Linked DNA regions of Homo sapiens: regions 1, 3 and 4 are each linked to region 2. Evidence: fine-mapped expression QTL. A gene starts in region 2. Each other region holds a variant in brackets. All regions are shown on one strand. Distances are between the middles of the regions.

Region 1 (5,155 bases), 280 kb before region 2:
GGAGCTGAGATTCCAATGCTGGCCTGATTCCAACCCTGTGCACTGTTTGCTTCTTTTGCTTCAATACCATTTGCTTCTTTTGTGTCTGACAGCTCTGTTGAAGTAAAGAGTAGTTAACAAGAAAACAATGAATAACACAATTCTGTTTGCTACAATATGGTGAATATACCTTTGCCCTAAATTATTGCCCCAAGACCTCAAAAGTAAATGATAATCATTTAAGGAAATATTAGGCTATAGCCCTCAGCTATCCCCAAGCATACCCAACAGCTTTTGTCCTTTGGTTAACAACTGACAAAGATTGGCATGCCTTTTGTTATTGATAAGGCCATATTTCTCATATTATTGTTATACAAGTGACTTCAGGGACCACAGAAAAATATAGATTAGCTCAACTTGTGGCTCTGTTAAAACTTCAAGAGACATTGTCAAAAATCAATATCTGAGGTACTAAACGATGTGTTTCTAACAGGTCTTTTGATGTCAAGTCACCCTGGAAGTCATGCTTTCGCAGGTGTTGCTGGCAAACACAAACACTCTTGACACCAGATATGACACAGACTTTTTGATCCTGTTGTTAGGAACTGGAACATGAACCACTTCACTTCTGTGATTTCTCCTGAAAACTAATGCATGGGGGAAAAGGGAAGCAAAGAGCAGATGCAGACTAATTCAGTGGGCAAAATACCTTCTTGTTTGTCTTGTAAGTACCTGCTAAATCTGGATGGAAAGAAAGTTATTCCTGAGATAGTTCCTTGTTAGTAAGGGAACAAGCTAGATATCTGAATGTGGAATAGCATCGTGATGGTGAGAAATATGACATGTCTTTTAATACCAGTCTCCTGAAATGATAGGATTCGAGGAATCCTTTGTGGTCTGCATATCACTTCAACCTAAATGATGAGTTATGAAAATGCCAAAATGAATAACCTTACTATTTAAGAAGTCCTTCAGTTTCAAATGAAGAAAATAAAAGTGTGTGACAATCCTGGTTACAAACTACAGGAGATGAGTGCAATGATTTTCAGAGAGACTTGGGATGGAAAGCAGGGTGACTTTGAGCAATTTTTGAAGGTTTCCACTATGATTAGGGAGTCCTTTGTTTGGAATGTCCATGTGAAATCACTGGTACTGAGCCATGCTGTTGAATGGTGATAACCAATATGGATCTTTGACTCAAGTGTTTTTGGGGCCCATGGCATGTAAGAGTTGTTGACCTCTTCATATTATACTGCGTACACTGGTATTTGCTATACTTCATTATACGATTTCTAAAATCAACATTAATTCCTGGTCTTGGGACATGGGCATCAATTGTTTTCATGCAAATTGTTCCCAGATGTGCTACAGGTAATGTGGCCAAAACAAAACAAAACAAAAAAAGTTACTAATCCTTTTAGCAATAACAATATGATTGGACTCCTTTATGGGCAGATAACTCATATGATGTGAACAGCTTGAATTTCTCAGGCAGTTTTGTCAACTATATACCACCTCCAGTTCCAGTTTAAAATACAAGCCAATCTGGGATTTTGTACAGCTAATAATGTAACTTGAACAAGCTGAATAGGAGGGACACTGAGGTCTCTAAACATCACAAATTCTAGAACTTGTTTTTATGTAATAACCTGTGCTATGAGGTAACAGATGGTTCAAAGTGCAGCAACTCAATGGTTCTCTTCCAGGCACATATATAAGCATTTAATTAAAAGAACTAAACAAAACATTCAGCACTGCATGTGTGACAAAGCAATTAAAGGTGTAGACTTATTCTTAGAAAACAGCCCCAAAAAGATAGGTGAACAGCAGAGAATAAACATGAAGGTTATTATCAAGTCTCCTGATTACAGGGCAGTAGCAATGGTTTATTTTTTAAATGTATATAGTTCAGCTCTGTAAATAACATTCTTCTTGGAAGTGGGCATTTGATGCCTCTTTGTCATCTGGAATTTTTGTAGCTAAGTATAGATCCTCATAAAACTATTTATTATTGTTCCCTTTAATGTATTAGCACAAATTCAGAAGCCAATAACTGTAAAACTTCTGAAAATAATTCTCATAGCACTAAAAAATCACTTTAGTGGGAAACTTGTTTCTACCAGATTCTACATGTCCACAGTCCTTTTGTCTTGTGTTGAAAAAAAAATATTTGGCATTGTGTCAGCATAGAAGGCACAAAGCTCTGTTTGAAATTGATACATCATGTATATCCTGAGTAGAAATAGTAAATAAGGAACTGATGTGGGGGCTCACAAGTGACTGATATTTTCCAGTTCACATTCTCTTTTTTCACAACAGGAAAAGAATAGAGTAAACTGCCTGAGATCTTTCTCATAGCTCATATTCTTTTGCTCCCATGATCACAGCACCTTTCATGATAAGCAATGCACAACATGTGATAAATCAACACACAGAAATAGAAGAAAACTATGTCAGTGTAATAAAAAGCCGTATA[C/T]TAAAAATATACAGCTAATGTCATACTCAGTGCTAAAAGACTGAAAGTTTATATTCAACATAATATTGGAAGTTCCAACCCCCAGTACCTTAGAATGTGACTTGATTGAAAAATGGTGTCATTGCTTATGTACTTAGGTTAGGATGAGGTCATACTGAAGTAGGGTAGGTTCCTAATTCAGTATGACTGGTATTCTTACACAAAAGCAAAATTTGGATACACACACACACTCATCATTGAAATAAAGCATGGCACCTGGGATCCTAAAAAGAAGGCTCTATGCCTTGTTAGAAAATATCATGAGAAATAAAACTTCCAAATAAATTAGTATTGAACTAAAAATTCCCATCTGTGAATGAGTATGGCTTGGATGCCTACTGTAGCATCATTCCACAATTGGCTATTGATTGTGAAAAAAAATAAAGTTTTAAACATTCCTAAAGCAAGAATAAGGGAGCAAGTGGTGTGAGTTGATTCCTGAAGGTCTAAATCAATTCCTTGTCTTATGTGTCATCTCGTTTTAATAAAAAAATGAATATGACTAGTTAAAGATCCACATTGCACAATAAAATTGTTTATCAGTCATATTTCAGAGTGGCTTCATATTGCCTGCTGGTGGTCAGCTTCCCCGTCGTGTGTGCATGTGCACACGTGCGCACACACACACACACACAAACCCATCATTATAATTAGAAAAGGTTACATGGTAGAGCAGCAAAATATCAATTCCCTCATCAATCCATTTAACAAATATTATAGAGCACCTCTATACTCTGTGAGGCATTGAGAATTCAGAGATTAACGAGAGTTCTCACTCCAGTGGAGAACTTAGTGAATAATCTAGAAATCACCATATATTTTCATTAGTACCATGAGAGAAACACATGAGGGAATGAAAGAGGCTCAGAGAATGGGCACACAAGTCATTCTGAAGTCAGGCATTAGAACGGTTCCTTAGAGAAGAAGCCCTTGAATGGATTAGCTGAGCAGACAAGTGGTAAAGGTCATTCTAGACAGAAGGAACATCACAGTAAGTCAGAGATTCTCCATAAAGTTGAGTTTATTTGGAAGAAAAAAATATATTGGGAAAATGGTGGCAGATATTTAATAACATTTAGCAATGGTTTGTTAGACAACTACTGCAAGTAAAGCCCATTCTAAATTACACCAGCTTATAACTACAACAATGGGGAAAAGACACAAATACTAATTTTTTTTGTCCTTGCAATAGTTTGCTGAGAATGATGGTTTCCAGCTTCATCCAAGTCCCTACAAAGGACATGAACTCATCATTTTTTATGGCTGCATAGTATTCCGTGGTGTATATGTGTCACATTTTCTTAATCCAGTCTATCATTGTTGGACATTTGGGTTGGTTCCAAGTCTTTGCTATTGTGAATAGTGCCGCAATAAACATACGTGTGCATGTGTCTTTATAGCAGCATGATGTGTAATTCTTTGGGTATATACCAGTAATGGGATGGCTGGGTCAAATGGTATTTCTAGTTCTAGATCCCTGTATGCATATGTAACAAACTTGCACATTGTGCAAATGTACCCTAAAACTTAAAGTATAATTAAAAAATACCAATTTTATAACATTGCATCTGCTGGCAAACATAATCATATCTGGCCAAGTCCAGCATTTCTTCTTGAGCAAAATTAATCACATCTGTGACTTGATAACCTGCAATGAAAACATTGCAACACCTAAGTCCTGGATAAATTCAAAACACCAAGAAAATGGGTACCGCATAATATCTGAACATTGAAAATAAAATGACAGTACATGCTACACATGGAAAGAGATTCTGCTAAACATAACTTACTTGCATGCCGCCTCTCAGGCCCTAGGAACTAATGGGTTCTGCTATAAGGCCATTGTGTTTCTCACATAAATCAGAAAGCCAAATCTGACTCTGATATTTATAGCTTGAAGCTTTCATTGCCCCCGTGGAAATTTCCCAGTAGACTCTTAGACTATCATTGTTATCTCTGTTGATGGCCAGTCAGTAAACGAATGTTTATGGAGTCACCACAAAGCACAGACTGACAAATGAAAAGCATACTTTTGATAGCAAGGGATGATTGGTCATGATCCTCAAATAAAGGAGTTTATGGCTTCAGAACAAAAAAACAGACAAACATTATACCTTGAAATATATCATTGCATCATTATAGTGAGAGGAATCCATTACGAGCTTGGATTGCAGAATGGACTGGATAAATATGACAAAAGTGAGTACAGTGAGTGGTCCCAGAATTCCTACCACTTATGGGTTCCTCAGTAAGATCTCTATGCACTCTTTACCTTAGTTTCTCAAGCTATAAAATGGGATAATGGTAGTATCTACATCATAAGAATGCCCTGAGGATTAAATGAGAAAACACATCTGCAACAATTAGAACAGTAGCTGGCACAAAAATATTAGGACTACTGAAAATACTAGGGATCTTTAAAAGGCTTCCCCAAAAAAGCCTTACCCAAAAAAAAAGGTAGTCTGAAAACAGTAACTTAGAGAATAGGAAAACTGAAATAGCTCTTCTTTGTTCACTTCTGAGGAATTCTGAATTGGAATCTAAACAGGATAAACCACTTAATAATCCGTCTTTGACTTTAGCCACCCTTAGATTTCTGGCACTTGCTGAACTGCAATATTGAATTTTGCATTTATAATTTCATTTTTTCTAGTTTTTTCT
Region 2 (5,155 bases):
CCCCTGGGAGGTCACTAGGCCTCTTCTACTTCCAAGAACTTCTAACTCCCATTAGTTCCTCTTACTTGTCAGTCATCAGGAAGAACATAAATGGATCTGTGCATTAACATTTATAAAAACATACAGCCAAAGGCAGGCTCAATAGCGTCCTCCTATATATTTTATTTATTCTCATTTTTCAGAAGGAAAATGTAAATTTCAGATCTCAACGGATGAGTCACATGCAATTTCTAAAGCCAATGCAGTAAGGACCTGTGATCAAGTGAACCCAGCCTTCCTGAACCTTCTGTCATCTCTCTGCCCCTCCTTTCAATCTTTGTTTTAGGTTGCAGACTCTTCTTTCTAGGTATACATGTGTAGGACATGTGTTCATCTAAAAGATTAGTCTAGTTGTAGAGACCAAAGGCATCACTTCTATTGACCCTGACCTTCGCCTACTTCAAGCAGATTTTCATTACTAAGAATCGATGTTATCAGAAGCTTAAGACTTTTCAGTTTAGAAAAATATATTCTGCATATTAGAAGTTGGGGGCTGGAGGATAAAGTTTATCTTGTCACAACTGTTCAATCTGAGATGTCCAAGAAGCAGCTTTCTGTGGAAACCTGGAATAATGGATTATTCCCAGGTGATATGTAAAGTTGTAGAATATAGATTAAGCTCATTATACTAAAAAGCCCTAAAATTAAACACAGCTGTTTGTTGAGCTCTTGCCCTGATTTCCCCAATTACAACATTGCTGTGTGTTCGCACACAAGCCTTTGATCCGATTCTCTTTCATTTCAGTCTGTCCTGGGACCTGTACTGTAGGAGAGAAAGACGAAAATCCATAGATGATGGATGATGTGTAGAACACAGATACTCTGTAATTCAAGTCTCGGTAAAATTCAGAAGTTAGAGCAACATACACAAACAAGAGGGTCTGGCCTTTCTTCCCAGAGGGGCTATTGGCTAACCTATTTTTGCTACATTAATTAAAACGACCCATCGCCCTGATTCCTAACAATCTTCCTAAAAACAGTATCTATTCCATATATCCTCCCAACACAATCAAAGTAGGTCAGAAATGTTGCTTCCTTCCCCTCATTGATTTTCATTAAGAGGATGCACTTTCTGAACACTAAATGGAAAGATAAACACCCAATACAAGAACCAATGACACCCCCTGTAAATTTTTGGCACACTGTCTCGTTCTTCTAAAAGCCAGATAAAAATCTCATCTCCCATAGTTTATCCTTTTTGGCTGTAAAACAACAATGATTACAAGCTATAAAATACACCGCGGCAATACTTCAGCCAGGTGATAAAGCACCTCCCAAAAGAAGCATATTCACTGTCTTTTCTAATTTTCTCCATCATCAACCTGCATCTTCTCTACCAAGTACATACTCCTTTTTTTTCCCCCCCAAATTCAAATCCACATTTTGTCAGAAGGATGCTAAGTGACACCATACATTGGCTTAGCAAACCCACAGGGCCTTAATCAGGAAGCTGAGGGCAGGGGAGTAGGACGAAGGCGTTTGCAGAGACAGGGGAGTGGAGACAGGGGGAGGAGGAGCGGGAAATCCTCTGGTGTCTGTGTCTGGCTCTCTGGAAAAGCTGTGATGAGATGGTTCTTCAAATCCCACTGGTGGGGCTTCCCCAGTCTCCTCCCCTTCCTGAAATCTTTCCCTCGACCCCAGGTCCTCAAACCTGGCTGTCCAAAAAGGACGCCGCAAAGTCCTGCAGAGCCCCCAAAAGACACAAGCGCGGACAGAAAAGCATCCCCCGAGAGACAGCGAAGCCACACACCCTCTCCGGGCCAGCTACCAGGGCGGGCAACTTCACCCCTCGAAGCAAACGAAAGCCCCTGTTCTCCAAGCAAAGGAAAAGGGGATGGCAAACAGAAATAAACAGGAACCGCTCTCAGCCTTCATCTTCCGCGCCCTCCCCCAGCAAACTCCAGGTAGAGGACCAGGTGCTGCTCACCTCCTGGCAAGGAGGAAGCGGGCGGCTGGAGGAGGAGGGCAGGTCCCCAGCCCAGGCCGCCTGGCAGCCGGCGAGCGCCCAGCAGCAAATCCAGGCGGGGCTCCAGGGCGGCGAGCGCCCGCGGCGGGGAGCCTCCGCCGGCCGCCCCCAGCCCCTGCCCCGTACCGGCCCCCGGGCGCGGAACAGCATCTTCGTCCGGCCGCGGTCGGCGGGCCGGCGGCAAGGCAGCCTTCCCGGGGTGCGGCGGCAGCTCCGGCTCCCGGGCCGCGACTGCTGTGCGCTCGTCTCGCCGCTCCGTCACCCGCTGCCCGTCCGCCCGCTGACAGCTCTGCTGCGCTCGCGGCCCGGGCAGCCAGCGCCGATGCTCCCGTCACGCCGGAGGGAGGGACCGCGGGGCGCGGGCGCGGCGCGGGGGCGGGACGCGGGGCGGGGACGCTGGAGCTGGGGAGCAGGTGGCGCGGGCGGGGGCTGCGGCCCAGCCCGGCGGGTCCCCAGGGGCTGCGCGGCGCTCGCCTCGCGCTAGAGGGCGAGAGAGGCTGGGGACCCCGTGGAGTAGCCTGTCTCAGGTCCCCGTGGCCCACTGGGAGGGGCGCTCCCGGGATGAAGCCAGAGTAAATACAGGACATCAGGACATTGTTTTCTGGCGGTGGGTCTTTAAAAAGCTCGCCACTTTCCTCATTGCACACAAACACGCAGATGTGCCCTCGGAACATCCCTTGTAAGGATCCATGCTGGCTAGCGTCAGATCGAATTTCTAGTTAGGGTGTGCATGAAATGGCGGGGAAGAAAGAGGACTGAGGTGTAGACGTGGTGTGTGACTCAGTTTTCTCACCTATTTAATGAAAATAATACCCACCACGTAGGATTATTATGAGGATTAAGTAAGTTGATGTACATAAAGCACTTGGAAGAGTGCCTGGCACACAGTAGGTGACATGTGTTGGTAGTAGTAGCCATAATTATTGCTGCTATTGGTGTTATTTTGTGGAGATGTGTAACATTGGGCATTAAGCCCTGTGTTTTCTGGAGGAAACAGTTTCTCCATCTGTGCGATGATTGAGGTGCTCTTCGTTTTTTCTTTCATTCAAAAACATACTGAACTAGGTGATGGTGAACAAGATGGACATAAGGCCTTCCTCAGTGGCAAGGATCTCAAGATCCCTTCTTGATCTCAGATTCTGTAAATGGGTGAGTTATTGTGTTTTTCAAAAGAAGCATCCAAATTTCTGATTATTGAATATCTGGACAAATCCACGTGGCCCACTCATTATAAGTTGGCCTGTGGCACATTTGTTTGTGGCATTATCTCTAATATCCTTTTAACAAAATTTCCACATGAAAGTCTCTGTATATGTGTGTTTGTGTGTATGTATACACATATAGATTTGTGTATCACACCTATATTCTGATTATAACAATATATGTTATTTGTAAACATTTTGGAAAATATTGAAAAGTATCAGGAAGAATATAAAAATAACTAGAGATCCTACCACCCAGAGATAACATTGTTAATGGTATTAACATGTTGAGGAATTTCCTTGCTTTTTTTTTTTTAACTCTGTGTGTACTGCAAAACTGGAATAATAATTTGTAACCTGCTTTTATTTTTATTCTTAATAACATAAATATTTTCTCAAGTCATTAAAGTCTCCAACAACACAACTTTAATAATTGTAAAATATTTTCTACTCTTTAGATACATGTAATTTACTATTAGATATTAGGCATTGTTTAAGGATTCAGTGTTATTAATAATTCTGGAAAGAATGCCCTTGGAACATAATCTGTGTGCATCTTTAAATATTTTATGATAACTTTCTAGAAGTGAAAACATTGGATCACATGATATGTGTATTTTTAAAGTTTTTGACGAATAGTGTACAAATTCCTTCCAAAAAATTTGTAGCAATTGTTACCAGCAGTTTATGAGTATTTATTTCACATCACCCTAGATTATAATACTTCAGATATTTATCATTTTGGTAGAAGAGACAAAAGCTATTATTTTTAAAATGTATTTTTATCATTGGTGACATCGAGTGATTTTTTATATATATCTACTAGCTATTTGCATTTTTCCTTCTCATGTCAGGGTGTGAGAATTTTTCACTGGCACACTTTAGCCATTTTATTGAAGTTCCATTTTTTATTGATTCGTTAGCAATCTTCATAAGCTTTGTGTATGTTTATCATATATCTTACAAATACTTTTTTGTAGTCTTTTAAATTTACTTCTGATAGCTTTTCTGGCAGAAGCTTGTCATCTTTAGGTATTCAAATGTAGCAACATTTTCTTTTGTGATTTCTTCCTTTTTTATATCTAGAAGTACACGTATCTCTGCAAAATCATACAGATGCCTATGTTTTCTTATTTTGTTATATTTTGTTATTATTTCCTTTTTATATGCTTTATTCTTTAATTCATGTGGAATTTTTAGGAGTCAAATTATGTTATGATTTTTGTCATCTGAGAAAGAACTAACAACATGACTATTAAATTGAAAACAGCTTCTTTCCTTATAAAAATAAGAGTCGTCCAGTCAATGCACTTGGATCAAATGACAATTGTAGATTTTCCAGAGTAGGACAACTTGCCACTTTCAATAAATACTTTTCTCATAGTTGTCCCATCCATAAAAAAGATCTTGACCTTGGATAATTAAAATCAGCATAAAGGCTGACAGAGAAAGGAAATTTCAAGAAGACTCTAAGGTCCTCTTCTACCTGTTATTTTAGGATGTAATAGCAAATTATTCAAAGTTTGTGATTATCTGATCAATAAATTTACTCTTAAAGATAGTTTTATAAAAATATACTTTAATAGAAAATTCATAATGAAATTTTTGCAAGAATGGGTTGAAATAGCTTACAATCACTAGGTAATAATCATTTTTCCACTTTATTTGTGCAGTGTATACCTGAAAATTGAACTGAATTTTGTTAAAAAGTCAACAAAAGCCTTAGCTGTATCAACAAAAGCCATAGCCAAAATGATGCTATATAAATAGATTTATTTTCTTTTTTAACTTAAATCAGATTGTGGTATAAATAACCCCAATTTTTATTTATTTTATTTTTATTTTTATTTTTATTATTATACTTTAAGTTTTAGGGTACATGTGCACAATGTGCAGTTTAGTTACATATGTATACATGTGCCATGCTGGTGTGCTGCACCCACTAACT
Region 3 (5,155 bases), 55 kb before region 2:
CTGGTGGCCATTGCTACTTCTCCATCTGATGCCAGTGATATATAATTGTTACCATGAGAATGGTTGGCTCCCTCTATATGAGTGCTTAAATACTAAAGCCTTCTACCACTCAACTTTTCTTAGAGTAGGCAAAGGATGCTACCAGGCATCATTTCCTCCATGAAGGCACACAAGATTCTGAGAGGGGAATTTCTGTGACTCTTCTAGACCCCAGCAGGGGTAGGCAGAACACTCCCTCATCAGGCATGTGTCTCCTCACTTCATTGGGGGTAGAGTTCCCAGGGAAGCCCACCAATGCCTCCCACTCAACTACCTACTGTATCCTTAACACTGAGTACTTCAGGAAATTACAGCCCCTCACTCCCAGTCTTTCAGGATTTTGTGAAGCTTTGGCACATGTTGGGCTAGATACCCCATCCCCCAGCACTTCACTGTAGCAGAGCATGGGACACTTCTGTGAGTTGCCAGCCAACAGTAACTGCAGGTGAGAAATGAACCACACTCCTTCAAAACCTCCCATGCTACATCCTGGACTAGACATTCCCTGGCTTTAGGGCTTGATTTTGGAGAGGCAAACAGGATGAATGGCGCTCCTAAGAGGAGGAAGAAGGTAATGACTACATCATAAATTTGCTCTCCCAGAAATTCTTCAGTCCTTAGATGGGTAGACAGGTAGAGTCACACAGGTTCTACAGGTCTGCCATCTCTTAGCAAGCCCTTCTTTATGGGATTGATAACACAAAGAGCATTTCTCTGATAAGGAAGAAATAAGATGTTAAAATAACCCTGCCCTACATTTTTACCAAGGCAAAGACAGGCTAATATTGCAGGGGTCAGCTAAACCCACACTTTTCCCAAGGCCATAATGTATATGGTACCAGCCAAGAACCCCTTTCCTTGGATCTGAGAGCTTCTGACATTATGGCTTGGGATCTGGTTTGGCTCTGTATCCCCAACAGAATCTCATGTTGAATTGTAATCCCCAGTGTTGGGGGAGGGTACTGGTAGGAGGTGATTTGATCATGGGGGCAAATTTCCCCCTTGCTATTCTCATGATAGTGAGTTCTCACAAGATCTGGTTATTTAAAAGTATGTAGCACTTCCCCCTTCGCTTTCTCTCCTGCTGGCCATGTGAAGATGTGGTTCCTTCCCCTTTGCATTCTGCCATGCTTGTAAGTTTCCTGAGACCTCCTCAGCCATGCCTCCTGGACAGCCTGTGGAACTGTGAGTCAATTAAGCCTCTTTTCTTTATAAACTACCCAGTCTCAGGTAGGTCTTTATAACAATGTGAGAACGAGCTAATACAACTTGCAAATATGGCTTCCAGAATCTCAACATTCATCAAGGAATGTAAACTTATAGCACAAGAGTGCCTGAAAGCTTATTGTGGTTCAAATGCCTTATTTTAAAATAAAGAAGCTCAGCCTCTGAGAATAAAGCATTTTCCCAACAATGCAAAGAAGCCACATGAAGTAACTTAGAAAGCAATCTCTGTCACTTTGGCAGAGTCAGACAGGAATAATGGTGTTGAGAAAATAAGCACTTCGCTTAGCTGCTGTGAGACTTGAACATGGCTCAAAGGAAGCCTGCACACTCCCAGGCTTCCCTTTTTGCTGCAGAGGTTCTTATCTACAAAGCCATCTAAAAAGTCAAGTGTGAGGTACTGGCTGTGCCATGAGCTCACTAATTAAAACATATTAACAGCATCGAGTCCTATTATCCTTTCAAAAGGGAGAGGGCCAAGGCAGGCCTGCAGGAGCCGAGAAGATAATTAAGTAAAATTGTTTCTCACAGATAAATAATGGATATGACAACAGATGCCTCTCTTTCCTGGATGGGTGGGGGACAACAAAGGGAGAATGTGCTTGTTTCCAAAATGAAGGCAAAATAGCCGCAGGCTAAAGATCAGCCCCCATTCAAACACCAGAGCAGAGAACAGGGTTGGCCTCTGTGCCCCAGTATGAAACAAAATCAATGTTTCTATACACGTTACTCATTTCATTACGTACTTTCACTTTGCCTTACAAAAGAAGCTAATACAAATTCAATACATGTCCACACACCAAACATAATGCTGCTGCCTTGTCAGCCATGTGGAGCTCCCACCACAAACTCTAAGTGTCTTTGACAGGCTGTTGTACACAAGATGCTGCAGAAAGCAACTCTTCATAGGAGTTTTCAGCCTGCCTGCCCTGTCATCTGCCATTATTCTTGCTCAGCT[G/C]TGGTGGATTAGAGATAACAGCCAACCAACACTTTTTTTCCTAACACTTACATACTATCAAGGTCACATGCTGGTGGCTACTGGAGGCACGTCATCAGCTGCACAGCTAATTACAGACAGTGCATTCTCATCATGAAGGCCATCGGACATATTAACGGAGAAGGAGGCCCTAAACTGCTATGCATAAAAGAGAAAGAACAGAGAAAAATGATCTACAACTTTAAGTATCTTTCTCTAAAGAATATCAGACCCCAAAGAAAATTGCTAACCCTGGGAAAATAAATCCTACATAGTAAGCAGTAGGAAGGAGAGCTATGACCCCTCTTTGCAACTGCCCAGAGCTACCAATAATGAGATCTCCAAGGCAGCTTCCTAATCCTTTCAAGGAGTAGGAGAAGGGTTCCTCTGTGCATATTGTATGGGCTGAGTGCAAGGTGCCCATTATGGCAAACTTTGGTCCTGTCTATGTGCTAAAAGGTCAGCTAGCAATGATTTATGAAATGTGACCACAAAAAATGAATTGTCATTAATCCTTATGGGCCCACAGTGAGACAGTTTATAATGGAAGCTCAATACGTATACACCAAACAAATGAACAAAAGGAAAAAAAGAAAGGCATGTCAATTGCTTTTACTGTATTTACTATAAGCATCATGGCACATAATGCTTTGATAAAAATGAAGCACTATTTTATGACATTAAAGTCTGTGTTTCCTCAATAGGGCTAAAAAAGAATTACCCAGGAAGCCTTCTATATTGGCAAAAGGACAATGTTGAGAGAAGAAAATGGCATATGTGCTAGATCCACACATGACATATTTCACCTAACAGCAAAAAACACAATGATTTGTCCTGGCATTTGAAGGAAAGAGTATTCAGAACACAACAGGATTTCCCTAGGTAAAAGCTGAATGTAGGTTTTTATGAATACTGCTTGAAATATAGAGTAACAGTTCAATGAAAATCAAAGCCATATTTGTAATTAAAATTATTCAGAGAACTCTCACTGATGTGGACAACTGATTTTCCAAAATGGTGCCAAAATAATTCAGTAAGGAAAGAAAAGATCTTCTCAACAAATGGTGTTGGAACAACAGAATATCCAAATGGAGAAATAAACTTCAATTCCTACTCTCATACCTAGGTACAAAGTTTAATTCAAGGTGGGTCATAGGCTTCAGTGTTAAAGTTAAAACTATAAACATTTTGAGGAAAACAAGAAACTATCTTCATGATCAAGAGTAGGAAAGATTTCTTTGACCAAATACAGAATGCAATAATTATAAAAGAAGAAAGAAAGGTAAATAAGACTTTACTGAAATTTAAAATTCCTGCTCACCAAAACATGACATTAAGAAAACAGAACTGGCAAGTCATAGACTGGAAGAAAATATTCTGAAAACATACTTCTGGCAAAGAATTTGCACTCAGAATATATTAAAAGCTTCTACAATTCAATTAAAAATTGGCTTTTTGTGATCACATTTCATAAACCACTGCTAGCTAACCTTTTAGCACATACACGGGGCTAAAATTTACCAGAATGAGTTTTAGAATTTAGAATCAGCACAGGACTTCAACAGAAACTTCCCAAAGAAAGATATACAAATGACCAATACACACATTAAAAAGTCATTTAATAATTTAATTAATCAATTACAGAAGTAATTTAATCATTGGTTGCCAGGGAAATGCAAATTAAAATCGCGATGAGGCACCACTACACATCCACTAGAATTGTCACAATAAAAAGGCCTGTTGGGGGGTGGGGGGCTAGGGGAGGGATAGCATTAGGAGAAATACCTAATGTAGATGACAGGTTGATGGGTGCAGCAAACCACTATGGCACATGTATACCTATGTAACAAACATGCACATTCTGCACATGGACCCCATAACTTAAAGTATAATTTAAAAAAGAAAGAAAGAAAGAAAAAGACTGAAAACTCAGGATGTGGACAAGGATGTGAAGCAACTAGAACACTCATCTTGCAGATAGGAATGAAAACAACTTGGAACAAGTGTTTGGTAGTTTCCTATACAGCTCAATAAACACCTATCCAATGGTCCAGCCATTCTACTCAAGATTTTACCCAAAAGATATAAAACCATAATGTCCACAAAGCAGACTTGTACAAAAATATTCACAGCCACTTATTATATTCAAAATAGCTGAAAACTAGAAACAACCCAAATGTCCATCAACAGAAAAATAGGTAAATTGTGGTACAGTTATACAAGGGAACACTGCTCAGCAATAAAAAGAAACAAACTGCTGATATGCATAACAATGTGGATGAATCTCAAAAAACATGATGTTGAGTGAAAGAAGCCAGACACACACACAAAAGTATGTACTGTATAATTCCATTTATATAAAGTTCTAAAACCAGCAAAACTAAACTGTGGTGAAAAGAGTCAGAAAAGTGTTTGCTTCTGGGCAGCAGAGTTGGAGAGAGAATTAACTGGAAAGAAAATGGAGTGTTTTGAGTGATAGAAGTACCCTGTCTTGACACAGATATGTGCATGTGTCAAAGCTGAAACTGTACACTTAACATTTGTGCATCTGATTGTATGTACACTGTACCTCAAAAAAGTAAACAAATACAGAACCCTAGTTAGTAGGTTTGCTTTCTGCAGTGGTATGGGCCAACAATTCTGAAACCAATTTCCATGTATTCTAGACTTGAGCAAATGAGTATATACACTGAGTATAACTGAAACCAGGTTTCTCATTGTTGGAGAAAGTAGTTACAAGTATAAAAAAGATAAAGACATGAATGTACACTGTGCTGTTCAAGTGGAATTAATGTTACCAGCACAAACTTGTAGTTTTTAATATGAACAGATATGGAATGAAATAAGATAAAGAGGTAGATATGCACACGTTTATATGCAGACATAAACACACATTTTCTAGATTTATCTACTTGG
Region 4 (5,155 bases), 37 kb before region 2:
TGTTTTGGAGTGTTACAATGCACACTTTATACATATCCTAAATGCCACTGAGTTTTCACTTTTAAATGATTAATTTTATGTTAAATGAATTTAGCCTTAATAATTTTTAAATTTAAAATTTAGAAATTGTAAAGAAAAAAGTAAACATCCAGTCATCACATTCCTCTTTAAAATTTACCAAATCATTTCAATCGCTTGAGACCATTTCCTCTACCAGTAGATTCCAGGTATGCTAGTGTGTCTGTTTCTCTTGCATGTGCTACTTTTATTACAAAAATAATAAAGTCTAACATTAATATAGTAGCATGAGCTGTTCTAAAGAGTTCATATGTATTAAATATGTTTAATCCTCACAACTCTATGGGGTAGGTATTATTAATTTCTATTATGATTATCCCTACTTTACAGATTAGAACAACACAGAATAAAGTGACTAGCTAAGGATTACACAGCTAGTAAGTGATAGAACTGGGATTTAAACCCAGCCAGACTGAGTTCAACCCTCTCAACTGCTTTAACTGTTATGTTTTACTTCCTCTCAAAGAATCCATGATCTCTGTAGAAAAACTAGAAATAGAGCTTTATATGTGAAATAAAGGATGACAAGACATACATAATCTTGCCACCCAGGGATAATCACAGTTAATTTGTTGCACATTTTCCCAAATAGATACACACGCATATATACCTACACCAATGTCTTCATAAGATGTTTTGTATTCTGCCTAATATATTGTAAATCTCTTCCATGTAAATAAATATACTGCCATATCAACACATTTAATGACTCATGATATCCATATCATAAGGAAACAATATATTTAACCAGTCACCTCTTAAAAATGTGGGTTGTTTATAAATAACACTAAGATGAATAACAACCTTCTACGTATACCACTGTTTAGTTAACCAATTTACTTAAGATAATTACAGAAATAGATACAGAATACCTGGTAAGAACATGTATTTTAAAGCTCTTGATAAATATTACCCAACTGTTTCCAGACAGTCTTTAATCATTTATACTCTCACCTGTAAGTTATGAGAATACCTCTCTTTAACACATTTATTTTTCAGCATTTTCCCAGCTAATCTCAGAACAAAGTCTATCTTACAAACCTGAAGAACATTTAAATTTCTAACTTACACCTTCAACAGATACACATTCCCAAGGAGGCAAAACTATATTTGGATTGGGGGCTATTCTTTTAAATGTACAGATTAAAATGAGGCAAACAGACATCTTTACAAAGTTGAGCTTTTGCCAGCTCAGAGTGTGATATATCTCTATTTAGGAATAATTGTCTTATAAAACATCCCTGTGGAATATGATCATTTTCAAATGAGTAAATAAGGCCTCAGCAGTTGACAGCCATAGGTTAGTGAATAAACTAAACTAAAATTTATTTATTTATTTATTTTGTATTATACTTTAAGTTTTAGGGTACATGTGCACAACATGCAGGTTTGTTACATATGTATACATGTGCCATGTTGGTGTGTTGCACCAATTAACTCGTCATTTAACATTAGTTATATCTCCTAATGCTATCCCTCCCCCCTCCCCCCACCCCACAACAGGCCCCAGTGTGTGATGTTCCCCTTCCTGTGTCCATGTGTTCTCATTGTTCAAGTCCCACCTACGAGTGAGAACATGTGGTGTTTGGTTTTATTGTCCTTGCGATAGTTTGCTGAGAATGATGGTTTCCAGCTTCATCCATGTCCCTACAAAGGACATGAACTCATCATTTTTTATGGCTGCATAGTATTCCATGGTGTATATGTGCCACAATTTCTTAATCCAGTCTATCATTGTTGAACATTTGGGTTGGTTCCAAGTCTTTGCTATTGTGAGTAGTGCCCCAATAAACATGTGTGCATGTATCTTTATAGCAGCATGATTTATAATCCTTTGGGTATATACCCAGTAATGGGATGACTGGGTCAAATGGTATTTCTAGTTCTAGATCCCTGAGGAATCGCCACACTGACTTCCACAATGGTTGAACTAGTTTACAGTCCCACCAACAGTGTAAAAGTGTTCCTATTTCTCCACATCCTCTCCAGCACCTGTTGTTTCCTGACTTTTTAATGATTGCCATTCTAACTGGTGTGAGATGGTACCTCATTGTGGTTTTGATTTGCATTTCTCTGATGGCCAGTGATAATGAGCATTTTTTCATGTGTTTTTTGGCTGTATAAATGTCTTCTTTTGAGAAGTGTCTGTTCATATCCTTTGCCCACTTTTTGATGGGGTTGTTTTTTTCTTGTAAATTTGTTGGAGTTCATTGTAGATTCTGGATATTAACCCTTTGTCAGATGAGTAGATTGCAAAAATTTTCTCCCATTCTGTAAGTTGCCTGTTCACTCTGATGTTAGTTTATTTTGCTCTTTAGTTTAATTAGATCCCATTTGTCAATTTTGGCTTTTGTTGCCATTGCTTTTGGTGTTTTAGACATGAAGTCCTTGCCCATGCCTATGTCCTGAATGGTATTGCCTAGGTTTTCTTCTAGGGTTTGTATGGTTTTAGGTCTAACATTTAAGTCTTTAATCCATCTTGAATTAACTTTTGTATAAGGTGTAAGGAAAGGATCCAGTTTCAGCTTTCTACATATGGCTAGCCAGTTTTCCCAGCACCATTTATTAAATAGGGAATCCTTTCCCCATTTCTTGTTTTTGTCAGGTTTGTCAAAGATCAGATAGTTGCAGATATGCGGCATTATTTCTGAGGGCTCTGTTCTGTTCCATTGGTCTATATCTCTGTTTTGGTACCAGTACCATGCTGTTTTGGTTACTGTAGCCTTCTAGTATAGCTTGAAGTCAGGTAGTGTGATGCCTCCAGCTTTGTTCTTTTGGCTTAGAATTGACTTGGCAATGCGG[G/A]CTCTTTTTTGGTTCCATATTAACTTTAAAGTAGTTTTTTCCAGTTCTGTGAAGAAAGTGATTGGTAGCTTGATTGGGATGGCAGTGAATCTATAAATTACCTTGGGCAGTATGGCCATTTTCATGATATTGATTCTTCCTACCCATGAGCATGGAATGTTCTTCCATTTGTTTGTATCCTCTTTTATTTCATTGAGCAGTGGTTTGTAGTTCTCCTTGAAGAGGTCCTTCACATCCCTTGTAAGTTGGATTCCTAGGTATTTTATTTGCTTTGAAGCAATTGTGAATGGGAGTTTACTCATGATTTGGCTCTCTGTTTGTCTGTTGTTGGTGTATAAGAATGCTTGTGATTTTTGCACACTGATTTTGTATCCTGAGACTTTGCTGAAGTTGCTTATCAGCTTAAGGAGATTTTGGGCTGAGACGATGGGGTTTTCTAGATATACAATCATGTCATCCGCAAACAGGGACAATTTGACTTCCTCTTTGCCTAATTGAATACCCTTTATTTCCTTCTCCTGCCTGATTGCCCTGGCCAGAACTTCCAACACTATGTTGAATAGGAGTGGAGAGAGGGCATCCCTCTCTTGTGCCAGTTTTCAAAGGGAATGCTTCCAGTTTTTGCCCATTCAGTATGATATTGGCTGTGAGTTTGTCGTAGATAGCTCTCATTATTTTGAGATACGTCCCATCAATACCTAATTTATTGAGAGTTTTTAGCATGAAGCGTTGTTGAATTTTGTCAAAGGCCTTTTCTGCATCTATTGAGATAGTCATGTGGTTTTCGTCGTTGGTTCTGTTTATATGCTGGATTACGTTTATTGATTTGCATATATTGAACCAGCCTTGCATCCCAGGGATGAAGCCCACTTGATCATGGTGGATAAGCTTTTTGATGTCCTGCTGGATTCGGTTTGCCAGTATTTTATCGAGGATTTCTGCATCAATGTTCATCAGGGATATTGGTCTAAAATTCTCTTTTTTTGTTGTCTCTCTGCCAGGCTTTGGTATCAGGATGACGCTGGCCTCATAAAATGAGTTAGGGAGGATTCCCTCTTTTTCTATTGATTGGAATAGTTTCAGAAGGAATAGTACCAGCTCCTCCTTGTACCTCTGGTAGAATTCGGCTGTGAATCCATCTGGTCCTGGACTTTTTTTGGTTGGTAAGCTATAATTATCACCGATCCCACAGAAATACAAACTACCATCAGAGAATACTATAAACACCTCTACACAAATAAACTAGAAAATCTAGAAAAAAGGGATAAATTCCTTGACACATACACCCTCCCAAGACTAAACCAGGAAGAAGTTGAATCTCTGAATAGACCAATAACAGGCTCTGAAATTGAGGCAATAATAAAATTTATTTTTTAAAATAAAAAGCAAGTATCACCCATGCCTGCCTTACATCACTGACCTAAGAGTCTTTTCCTACAGAAAAAAAAAAAAAACCATAGGCTGTCATGGATGTAATTTATAAGATTATGATTCCTCCATACTGTAGGTCACCTGATAAACCAAGTCAGAATTATAGAAGGCTAAGACATTCTATGGTCCCTAAACCTTGTCTTGAGGAATACTAAGTATTTCATGCTAAATGTCTAAATTCAATTCGTTTAGATGACTAAATGAAATTGTAGAAGCAGTCATCTGTTGGCAGATTCACCAAGCCCTCTTGTTGACTATTTTCAGACAATGCTTATTTTCTAAAAACCATCAAGCTACATTCTCTGCCCAGTATGACCATATTGGACAGGAAAAATCCCCCTTCAGTCAAGAGTATCGAACAAAAAGCAAAGACCTAATTCCTATTTTATCTAAAAATATAAAACAAGAAGAAATAAAGTCATAAAATGTCAAGCTTGGAAAGGACTTTACAGATGATCTAAACCAGTCTCTTTCTTTGCCAAATGAGAAGATGGAGTCCAGCAGAAAGCAAGTTACTCAGGTCACACAATTAATGACAAGTAAAATCTTGTAACTGGGTCTCTTGACTCACAGGCCAATGCTTATCCCACCACACTCTGGTGCACACATAACCAATTGAGCATTACCTGCCAATCAATTCACTTCCAAAAAAAGTGATTAAAAATTTTTCTTCTGGATAATTAAAATTAGATTATGCTTTTCAAGCTACTGTAAATTAAGGCCAATTTTTTACATAATATTGAAGAACTATTAAGCCTCTAACATTAAATAATTTTACTAAATTTAAAACATTTCAAGTAAAATCAAATTTGAGCATAATTCTTCAAAATTCCTCAACATGTTA

Direction of the effects. Alleles are on the strand shown, and positions count from the first base shown. SD is a standard deviation of normalised expression in the study named. Not every link is listed here.
For the expression in subcutaneous fat of the gene that starts at base 2,296 in region 2, allele G in region 3 goes with a higher level than allele C (small effect, 0.30 SD a copy in GTEx).

Evidence for each region. PIP is the estimated chance that this variant, and not a neighbour inherited with it, causes the effect.
Region 1: its variant is the best candidate, but not a certain one, in a credible set for the expression of ELAPOR2 in whole blood (TOPMed, PIP 0.86).
Region 3: its variant is the best candidate, but not a certain one, in a credible set for the expression of ELAPOR2 in subcutaneous fat (GTEx, PIP 0.57).
Region 4: its variant is the best candidate, but not a certain one, in a credible set for the expression of ELAPOR2 in whole blood (INTERVAL, PIP 0.85).

What each region holds. Positions count from the first base shown.
Region 1 is chr7:86,776,312-86,781,466 of GRCh38, forward strand. The region is part of intron 2 of GRM3 (glutamate metabotropic receptor 3); the gene reads left to right. GRM3-AS1 (GRM3 antisense RNA 1) reads right to left here. Exons shown (of 4, transcript XR_007060408.1): 3 at 1-5,155. Among named protein-coding and RNA genes, the nearest start is that of GRM3-AS1, 25 kb to the right of the region's middle. The variant C/T (reference allele first, on the strand shown) is at 2,456.
Region 2 is chr7:87,057,359-87,062,513 of GRCh38, forward strand. ELAPOR2 (endosome-lysosome associated apoptosis and autophagy regulator family member 2) reads right to left here and starts at 2,296. Exons shown (of 22, transcript NM_001142749.3): 1 at 1,967-2,296. The coding sequence starts at 2,155. RefSeq lists an enhancer at 1,258-1,758 and silencers at 2,024-2,093, 2,184-2,573.
Region 3 is chr7:87,002,392-87,007,546 of GRCh38, forward strand. All of the region lies in intron 1 of ELAPOR2 (endosome-lysosome associated apoptosis and autophagy regulator family member 2), which reads right to left. Among named protein-coding and RNA genes, the nearest start is that of ELAPOR2, 55 kb to the right of the region's middle. The variant G/C (reference allele first, on the strand shown) is at 2,222.
Region 4 is chr7:87,020,668-87,025,822 of GRCh38, forward strand. All of the region lies in intron 1 of ELAPOR2 (endosome-lysosome associated apoptosis and autophagy regulator family member 2), which reads right to left. Among named protein-coding and RNA genes, the nearest start is that of ELAPOR2, 36 kb to the right of the region's middle. RefSeq lists a silencer at 753-953. The variant G/A (reference allele first, on the strand shown) is at 2,881.